2 separate regions of the Homo sapiens genome follow, and region 2 is linked to region 1. Evidence: fine-mapped expression QTL. A gene starts in region 1. The other region holds a variant in brackets. All regions are shown on one strand. Distances are between the middles of the regions. Region 1 holds the start of FBLN7 (fibulin 7). Region 2 overlaps TMEM87B (transmembrane protein 87B).

Region 1 (5,478 bases):
AGGGGCCCGGCCAGCGATGCATCTGAGGTGACAGGTGGGGGACCCTGCACCTCTCTCTGAAAACTGAACCCCAGCCCAGGCATCGCTCCGAGCTCTCAACCCAGGCATCCGAGTGGAAAGTGGCAAGCCCGGGTCCCCCAGCCTTGGTGCTGCCTCCCCTGCGCGCGGGACAGGGGAGAGAGGAAGGAGGGATGCTGGCCTGGAGAGAGGCAGGAGGGACACTGACCTGGAGAGAGGCGGGAGGGACACTGACCTGGAGAGAGGCGGGAGGGACACTGGCGTGGAGAGAGGCGCGCGGGACAGGGGAGAGAGGCGGGAGGGACACTGGCCTGGAGAGAGGCGGGAGGGACGCTGGCCTGGAGAGAGGCGGGAGGGACACTGGCGTGGAGAGAGGCGGGAGGGACACTGGCGTGGAGAGAGGCGGGAGGGACGCTGGCGTGGAGAGAGGCGGGAGGGACGCTGGCGTGGAGAGAGGCGGGAGGGACGCTGGCCTGGAGAGAGGCGGGAGGGACGCTGACCTGGAGAGAGGCGGGAGGGACGCTGGCCTGGAGAGAGGCGGGAGGGACACTGGCGTGGAGAGAGGCGGGAGGGACACTGGCATGGAGAGAGGCGCGCGGGACAGGGGAGAGAGGCGGGAGGGACACTGGCCTGGAGAGAGGCGGGAGGGACACTGGCGTGGAGAGAGGCGGGAGGGACACTGGCCTGGAGAGAGGCGGGAGGGACACTGGCCTGGAGAGAGGCGGGAGGGACACTGGCGTGGAGAGAGGCGGGAGGGACACTGACCTGGAGAGAGGCGGGAGGGACACTGGCGTGGAGAGAGGCGGGAGGGACGCTGGCCTGGAGAGAGGCGGGAGGGACGCTGACCTGGAGAGAGGCGGGAGGGACGCTGGCCTGGAGAGAGGCGGGAGGGACACTAGCCTGGAGAGAGGCGGGAGGGACACTGGCGTGGAGAGAGGCGGGAGGGACGCTGGCCTGGAGAGAGGCGGGAGGGACGCTGACCTGGAGAGAGGCGGGAGGGACGCTGGCCTGGAGAGAGGCGGGAGGGACACTAGCCTGGAGAGAGGCGGGAGGGACACTGACCTGGAGAGAGGCGTGAGGGACACTGGCCTGGAGAGAGGCGGGAGGGACACTGGCCTGGAGAGAGGCGGGAGGGACACTGACCTGGAGAGAGGCGGGAGGGACACTGGCGTGGAGAGAGGCGGGAGGGACGCTGGCCTGGAGAGAGGCGGGAGGGACGCTGACCTGGAGAGAGGCGGGAGGGACGCTGGCCTGGAGAGAGGCGGGAGGGACACTGACCTGGAGAGAGGCGTGAAGGACACTGGCCTGGAGAGAGGCGGGAGGGACACTGGCCTGGAGAGAGGCGGGAGGGACACTGGCGTGGAGAGAGGCGGGAGGGACACTGGCTGGCCTGGAGAGAGGCGGGAGGGACACTGGCCTGGAGAGAGGCGGGAGGGACGCTGACCTGGAGAGAGGCGGGAGGGACGCTGGCCTGGAGAGAGGCGGGAGGGACGCTGACCTGGAGAGAGGCGGGAGGGACGCTGGCCTGGAGAGAGGCGGGAGGGACGCTGGCCTGGAGAGAGGCGGGAGGGACACTGGCGTGGAGAGAGGCGCGCGGGACAGGGGACAGAGGCGGGAGGGACACTGACCTGGAGAGAGGCGGGAGGGACAGGGGAGAGAGGCGGGAGGGACAGGGGAGAGAGGCGGGAGGGACGCTGGCCTGGAGAGAGGCGGGAGGGACACTGGCCTGGAGAGAGGCGGGAGGGACACTGGCCTGGAGAGAGGCGGGAGGGACACTGACCTGGGAAGCCCGCGGCTCGGGGCAGGCGAGGATCAGGAGCAGAAGGAAGAGCGCGCGCGGAGAGCTGGGCACCATCTTGCCAGTCGGAATCCCGCTGCCTGGGAGGGGAAATAACTTTGCCTCCGCTGCCGAGTTTGTCCCAGCGATGCGGCAGCCGTCCCTGCAGGGTGCGGGGCGCCGCGCGGCCGGGGGGCGGCTGGGGCAGGGGGGGAGGCGGGAGGCCCCGAGCGCAGCGCGTCCCGCGGGGATCGGCGCCGCCCGGGCCTTGCGAGGGTCCAGGTGCGCCCGCAGCTGCCCGCACGAGACAGTCCGCGCGAGGCGGGGAGGCGCCGGCCCCTGGGCTAAGGACGAGGGAGGAGGGGCTGCCCGGCCGGGAATGCGCCCGGGAGCGCGCCCAACCCGCGACGCCGAGGACGAGCGCGGGCATCCTCGGGGCCTGGCAGGGATGGGCGGCCAGTGCCCCGCATATGTGCGGGTGACTGGAAGCCCACCCTGGGCGGGTTCACTCCCGACCGTCCTATTTCCCAACCAAGTAGACTGAGGCTCAGTCACCAAGGACAAGTGGCAGAACAGAAACCCAAACCCAGGTCTGTCCTACTTCAAAGCCCACGCGACACCCTCCTCCCGACATTCCTAGAAGGGGGCCAGGAAATGGGCTTCATAAGCTTGACGTGGGGTGGACTGAGCTCTCCATCCGAATAAACTAGTGTCCCTTTAAATAATGCAATGGGGCCGTGAGAACACGCACGCACAGTGAGTAGATACACACACAGTGATACAGTGAGGGGATCTACGTCCTTCTGATTCACTGTCCTCCTTGCTCAAGGGAAGGAGAAACTCAGTTTAAATCGGAGGTCAGGTTCTAGAACATTGCCTGCCTTGCTGAAGTCGAATCAGGAAGTGCCAGGCCGGCATGAGCAGTCTGAAGTCCCCTGCCATCAGGGCTGTGGTACAACCAGATGCCTCAGACCTGAGCTCCCGGAAGGCATGACTGACGTTCTTCCTGGAAGGTTTTCTGAAGGCAGTCACTGCAGATGTCCTGGGACACACAAGTCTGGTCAAGCCCCAGATCTCTTTTTCCTCTTCCACATTTCACTTTGTTGAGCCCACTCAGAGCTCAGGGAACGGGGAGCCCACAAGACTGTGACCACAGAGCAGGAGCTGTTTCCCAGCAGAGGCCAGAAAGGAAAGCTGGAGTCCTGGCTTAGTCCCTTCAAACTGCTATAGCAAAATACCATAAACTGAGTGGCTTATAAACAATAGAACGTGTTTCTCACAGTTCTGGAGACTGGGAGGTCCAAGATCAAGGTGTCAATAGATTAGGTGTTTGGCGAGGGCCAGAGTTCTGGTTCCCGTGTCCTCACAGGGGAAAGGCAGCTCTCTGGGGCCTCTTTTCTGAGGGCACTAATCCCAATTTTGAGGGCTCTGCACTCATGACCTAGTCACCTCCCAAAGGTCCCACCTCCTAATGCCATCATCTTGGGAATGAGGTTTCCAACATATAAATTTAGGGGAGACACCAACATTCAGAACCTAGCCAGTGCCCCAAAAAGCAGGGGACATGGTTTAGGCTGGCCTCCTGGGCATTGGTTGCCCAGGAAATCCTACAGTGCTGCTCCCCCAACCTTCCCATGCAAAGGAGGTGGAACGGGACCCATGTAAATCTTTTTTTTCTTTGAGACGGCGTCTTGCTCTGTTGCCTAGGCTGGAGTGCAGTGGCCTGATCTCAGCTCACTGCAGCCTTGCCTCCCTGGTTCAAGTAATTCTCCTGCCTCAGCCTCCCAAGCAGCTGGGGCTACAGGCATGCACCACCACGCCTAGCTAATTTTTGTATTTTTAGTAGAGACAGGTTTTCACCATGTTGGCCAGGCTTGTCTTGAACTCCTGACCTCAAATGACCCACCCGCCTCAGCCTCCCAAAGTGCTGGGATTATAGGTGTGAGCCACTGCAGCCTGCAAGGGATCCATGTAATTTTATTTTGCATTCCTGGTTGAACATCCTGAAGAGAGACATGGTCATACCCCTGCTTCTCCCTATCCAGGTGGAGAGGACGGGACAGCATGGCCCGATCCAGGGCAGCCTGTGGAGATGGTGGTTTTCTGCCTCGATCTCTCATGTGTTTGCTGTCTGTACCAAAAGCCAGTGCCCTGCTCCCTCTCTGTCTCTCTGTCCTCTGCCCTATCCTTGAAAAGCTTCCTCCTGGTCAGTGTGGCTGCATTTATTAATATTTTGTGTCCTATCCCACCTTGTGTTTACATGGCGACCTTCTCTGGAAGGCCAGCTGTTCTGGCTCTCAGCCTTGTTCTGGCTATGCGCTGGTAACCAGACATCGGGCAGATGTAAGCAAGCCTTCTTTTCTCTTCTCCTGCCCTTTCTGTGGAGTCATAAAGCTGGAAGAGATTCTTGATTTCACAGATGAAGAAGCTGAATCGGGGCATGGTTGACTGACTTGCCCAAGGAATGCAAACTCTGGTCTCAAGATCCCCCTCCCAGAGCGGTGCTGTTTCTAGGACAGACTACCTTTGACTTTATCCCACCTCTCATTTTAGGGCTACTATGTTGCTTATATTAAATACATGATCATAGCATTTCAGGAATTTTATTTACAGTAATGGGGGGTTTTCTGTTTTTTTGTTGTTGTTGTTTTTTGTTTTCTTGGGTTTTTGCTTTTGTTTTTACTTTTCAAATATTTCTAAGTTTCAACAGGATTTTTTTTCCTATGTAATTATTTATATTTGTAACCCTTTCCCTATGGCTGCCTTCCCTCTAAGTGTTCTGGCATCTGGTCTGAATGAACCTTCTAAGATCTGACTGCCCCAGCAGCACTGTCCTTTCTCTGTCTTTGTCCTCAGCTGCCCTGGATCTGCAGTAATCAAGGCAGAGCCTATCAAGTCCAGAACCTACCAAGGCTGTCTACAAGCAGACAGCCCATGAAAATCAGCTGGGTGCTCTACCTTTAAGCCCCCAACCCTCACCTTTAACTGAATACAATGGGCCTATCAGCCTTTTTTTTTTTTTTTTTTGAGACAGTCTCACTCTATTGCCCAGGCTGGAGTGCAGTGGCATGATCTCAGCTCACTGTAACCTCTGCTGCCTCACAGAGGCAATCTATTCTCCTGCCTCAGCCTCTCAAGTAGCTGGGATTACAGGCACCTGCCACCATGCCCAGCTGATTTTTGTATTTTTAGTAGAGACGGGGTTTCACCATCTTGGCCAGGCTGGTCTTGAACTCCTGACCTCGTGATCCACCCGTCTCAGCCTCCCAAAGTGCTGGGATTACAGCCATGAGCCACCATGCCTGGCCCTTATCAGCTAGTTTATTCCTCTATTTCCCCTCTATTTAGTTTTCAAGAGAATATTCCTGAGTGTCGGGGGATTGGTTTGGTGGGGTTCAACATGTCTACAGAAAGTATTTTAAACATCTTTTGGTAAGATCAGTTGCCATCTCCTTGGATTAGTGCTCTGATACATTCAGGTTCTCTGTGTAACATAGGCATGCAACACAAAATGGGAAGATTTGTTGCAGAAATTTGTCTTTAAGACCCCAACAGAGGCCAGGTGCGGTGGTTCATGCCTGTAATCTCAGCACTTTGGGAGCTGAAACAGGCGGATCACTTGAGGTCAGGAGTTTGAGACCAGCCTGGCCAAGATGATGAAACCCTGTCTCTACTAAAAGTAC
Region 2 (5,211 bases), 67 kb after region 1:
AAATTAACAAAGATATTCAGGACCTGAACTCAACACTGGATCAAATGGAGCTGATAGACATCTACAGAACTCTTCACCCAAAAATAATAGAATATACACTCTTCTCATCTCTGCATGGCACATACTCTAAAATCAGCCAATGAGAAATAAAACAATGCTCAGAAAACGCAAAAGAACCAAAATCATACCAACCACTCTCTCAGACCACAACAATAAAATTGGAAATCAAGATTAAGAAAATCTTTCGAAACCGTACAATTGCATGGATATTAAACAACCTGCTCCTGAATGACTTTTGGGTGAATAATGAAATTAAGGCAGAAATCAAGAAGTTCTCTGAAACTAATGAGAACAAAGATACAACATACCAGAATCTCTGCGACATAGCTAAGGCAATATTAAGAGGGAAATTTACAGCACTAAACGCCCACAGTGAAAAGTTAAAAAGATCTTGGCTGGGTGCGGTAGCTCACACCTGTAATCCTGTAATCCCAGTACTTTGGGAGGCTGAGGCGGGTGGATCATCTGAGGTCACGAGTTCGAGACCAGCCTGGCCAACATGGCGAAACCTCATCTCTACTAAAAATACAAAAGTTAGCTGGGTGTGGTGGTGGGTGCCTGCAATCCCAGCTACTCGGGAGGCTGAGGTGGGAGAATCACTTGAACCTGGGAGGTGGAGGTTGCAGTGAGCCGAGATTGCACCACTGCCCTCCAGCCTGGGCAACAGAATGAGACTCTGTCTCAAAAAAAAAAAAAAAAAAAAAAGAAGAAGAGTTAAAAAGATCTCAAATTAATTAACAACCTAACATCACAACTCAAAGAACTAGTGAAGCAAGAGCAAACCAACCTCAAAGCTGGCAGAAGACAAGAAATAACCAAAATCAGAGCTGAACTAAAGGGGACCGAGACATGAAAAACCATTCAAAAGACCAATGAATCCAGAAGCTGTTTTTTTGAGAAAATTAATCAGATAGACTGCTAGGTAGGTTAATAAAGAAGAAAAGACAGAGGATCCAATAAACTTAATTAGAAATGACAAACGGAATGTTACCACTGAGCCCACAGAAATACAGGTAACCATCAGAAAATACTATCAATGCCTCTATGCACACAAACTAGAAAATTTAGAATAAATGGATAAATTACTGGACACATACACCCTCCCAAGACTAAACCAGGAAGAAACTGATTCCCTGAACAGACCAATAAGAAACTCTGAAATGGAAATAGCCTACCAACCAAAAAAAGGCCGAAGACCAGATGGATTCACAGCTAAATTCTACTAGAAGTACAAAGAAGAGCTGGTACCATTCCTACTGAAACTATTCCAAAAAATTGAGGAGGAGGGACTCCTCCCCAACTCATTCTATAAGGCCAGCATTATTCTGATACCAAAACATAGAAGAGACATGACAAAAGAAGGCTTCAGGCCAATATCTTTGATGAACACTGATGCAAAAAACCTCAACAAAATACTAGCAAACCAAATCCAGCAGCACATCAAAAAGTTAATCTACCATGATCAAGCAGGCTTTCCCCTGGGATGCAAGGTAGGCTCAACACATGCAAATCAATAAACATGATTTATTACATAAAGAGAATTAAAGACAGAAACCACATGATCATCTCAATAGATACAGAAAAGGCTTTGGATAAAATACAACATCCTTTCATGTTAAAAACTCTAATAAACTAGGTATTGAGGGAACAGATCTCAAAATAATAAGAGCCACCTATGACAAACTCATAGCCAACATCATACTTAATGGGCAAAAGCTGGAAGCATTACCCTTGACATCCGGCACAAGACAAAAATGCCCTCTCTCATCACTCCTATTTAACATGGTATTGGAAGTCCTGGCCAGAGCAATCAAGTAAGAGAAAGAAATAAAGGGCACCCAAATAGGAAGAGAAGAAGTCAAACTATCCCTGTGTGCAGACGACATGATTATATATCTAGAAAACCCCATACTCTCTGCCCAAAAGCTCCTTGAGCTGATAAGCAACTTCAGCAAAGTTTTGGGATACAAAATCAATATATAAAGATCACTAGCGGCTGGGCGTGGTGGCTCACTCCTGTAATCCCAGCACTTTGGGAGGCCAAGGCAGCAGGATCACTTAAGGTCAGGAGTTTGAGAGCAGCCTGGCCAACATGGTGAAACCCCGTCTCTACTAAAAAAAAAATTCAAAAATTAGCCGGGCATGGTCACAGGTGCCTGTAATCCCAGCTACTCAGGAGGCTGAGGCAGGAGAATTGCTTGAACCTAGGAGGCGGAGGTTGCAGTGAGCAGAGACTGCGCCATTGCACTCCAGCCTGGATGACAGAGTGGGCAGTGGTGGCGGCGGCGGGGGGGCGGGGGGGGAATCACTAGCATACCTGTACACCAACAACAGCCAAGCCAAGAGCCAAATCATGAATGCAATCCCATAGGAATACAGCTAACCAAGGGGGTGAATGAACTCTACAATGAGAATTACAAAACACTGCTCAAAGAAATCAGAGATGACACAAACAAATGGAAAGATGTTCCATGCTCAGCCGGGCGCAGTGGCTCATGCCTGTAATCCCAGCACTTTGGAGGCCGAGGCGGGTGGATCATGAAGTCAGGAGATCAAGACCATCCTGGCTAACACAGTGAAACCCCATCTCTACTAAAAAAAAATACAAAAAATTAGCCGGGCATGGTGGCGGGCGTCTGTAGTCCCAGCTACTTGGGAGGCTGAGGCAGGAGAATGGCATGAACCCGGGAGGTGGAGGTTGCAGTGAGTGGAGACTGCGCCACTACACTCCAGCCTGGGTGACAGAGCAAGACTCCATCTCAAAAAAAAGAAAAAAAAAAAAGATGTTCCATGCTCATGGATATGAAGAATTAATACTGTTAAAATGGCCCTGCTGCCCAAAGCAACTTACAGATTCAATGCTATTCCTATCAAACTA[C/T]CAATGACATTCTTCACAAAACTAGAAAAAACTATTTTAAAATTCATATGGAACCAGAAGAGAGCCCGAATAGCCAAGGCAATCCTAACCAAAAGGAACAAAGCTGGAGGCATCATGCTACCTGACTTCAAACTATACCACAGGGCTATAGTAACCAAAACAGCATGGTACTGGTACAAAAACAGACACATAGACCAGTGGAACAGAATAGAGAGCCCAGAAATATCGGAGCACACGTATAATAATTTGGTCTTTAATAAAGTTGACAAAAACAAACAATGGGGAAAAGACTCCCTATTCAATAAATGGTGCTGGGATAACTGGCTAGCCATATGCAGAAGACTGAAACTGGACCCTTTGCTTACATTATATACAAAAATCAACTCAAGATGGATTAAAGAGTTAAATGTAAAACTTAAAACTATGAAAACCCTATGAAGACAACCTAGACCATACCATTCTGGACATAGGACAGGTGACGATTTCATGACAAAGTTGCCAAAAAAGCAATTGCAACAAAAGCAAAAATTGACAAATAGGATCTAATTAAACTAAAGAGTTTCTGCACAGCAAAAGAAACTATCAACAGAATAAAAAGATAACCTACAGAATGAGAGAAAATATTTGCAAGCTATGCATCTGACAAAGGTCTAATGTCCAGTGTCTATAAGGAACTTAAACAAATTTACAAGAAAAAAAACAAAAAAAAATTAAAAAGAGGGCAAAGGACATGACTAGACATTTTTCAAAGGAAGACATGCATATGGCCAACAAGCATATTTTAAAAAGCTCAATATCACTGATCATCAGAGAGATGCAAATCAAAACCACAATGAGATACCATCTCACACCAGTCAGAATGGCTATTATTAAAAAGTCAAAAAATAACAGATGCTGGCAAGGTTGTGGAGAAAAGGGAATGCTTATACACTGCTGGTGGGAGTACAAATTGGTTCACCCATTGTGGAAAGCGGTGTGGCAATTCCTCAAAGAGCTGAAAAGAGAACTACCGTTTGACACAGTACTTCCATTACTGGGTATATTATATACCCAAAGGGATATAAATCGTTCTGTCATAAAGACACATGCACACATATGTTCACTGCAGCACCATTCACGTTGCCAAAGATATGGAATCAACCTAAATTCCCATCAATGGTAGACTGGATAAAGAAAATGTGGTACATATACATCATGGAATAATATGCAGACATAAAAAAGGAGATCGTGTCCTTTGCAGGGACATGGATGGAGCTGGAAGCCATTTTCCTTAGCAAACTAACACAGGAACAGAAAACCAAATACCGCATGTTCTCACTTATAAGTGGGAGCTAAATGATGAGAAAATGGACACAAAGAGGGGAACAGCAGACACAAAGAGGGGCCTACTTAAGGGTGAAGGCTGGGAGGAGGTAGAGGAGCAGAAAAAATGACTATTGGGTACTAAACTTAGTACCTGTGTCATGGAAATAATTCGTACAACAAATTCCTGTGACATGAGTTTTTTTTTTTTTTTTTTTTTTTGAGACGGAGTCTCGCTCTGTCGCCCAGGCCAGACTGCGGACTGCAGTGGCGCAATCTCGGCTCACTGCAAGCTCCGCTTCCCGGGTTCACGCCATTCTCCTGCCTCAGCCTCCCGAGTAGCTGGGACTACAGGCGCCCGCCACCGCGCCCGGCTAATTTTTTGTATTTTTAGTAGAGACGGGGTTTCACCTTGTTAGCCAGGATGGTCTCGATCTCCTGACCTCAAGATCCACCCGCCTCGGCCTCCCAAAGTGCTGGGATTACAGGCATGAGCCACCGCGCCCGGCCTACATGAGTTTACGATATAACAAACCTGCACATGTACCCCTGAAAATAAAAGTTAAAAAATAAAAATAAAACCTTCTCCTTAATGAGGATAGTGTTGCCATTGGCAGGGAAAGTGTTAGGAAGTAAAAGGGGGTTCTAGGTGCTAAAATGTTCTATAATTCATCAGGGTCTACATGGTTGTGCTCAGTTTTGTTGTCTGTTTTTTTTGAGACGGAGTCTCACTCTGTTGCCCAGGCTGGAGTGCAGCGGCATGATCTCGGCTCACTGCAAGCTCCACCTCCCGAGTTCACGCCATTCTCCTGCCTCAGCCTCCCAAGTAGCTGGGACTACAGGTGCCCGCCACCACGCTCGGCTAATTTTTTGTATTTTTAGTAGAGACGAGGTTTCACTGTGTTAGCCAGGATGGTCTCGATCTCCTGACCTCATGATCCACCCGCCTTGGCCTCCCAAAGTGCTGAGAT

What was found. PIP is the estimated chance that this variant, and not a neighbour inherited with it, causes the effect.
Region 2: its variant is the best candidate, but not a certain one, in a credible set for the expression of FBLN7 in whole blood (INTERVAL, PIP 0.74).

What each region holds. Positions count from the first base shown.
Region 1 is chr2:112,135,051-112,140,528 of GRCh38, reverse strand. FBLN7 (fibulin 7) reads right to left here and starts at 2,144. Exons shown (of 8, transcript NM_153214.3): 1 at 1,799-2,144. The coding sequence starts at 1,873. RefSeq lists an enhancer at 1-327.
Region 2 is chr2:112,068,450-112,073,660 of GRCh38, reverse strand. All of the region lies in intron 4 of TMEM87B (transmembrane protein 87B), which reads right to left. Among named protein-coding and RNA genes, the nearest start is that of TMEM87B, 16 kb to the right of the region's middle. The variant C/T (reference allele first, on the strand shown) is at 2,939.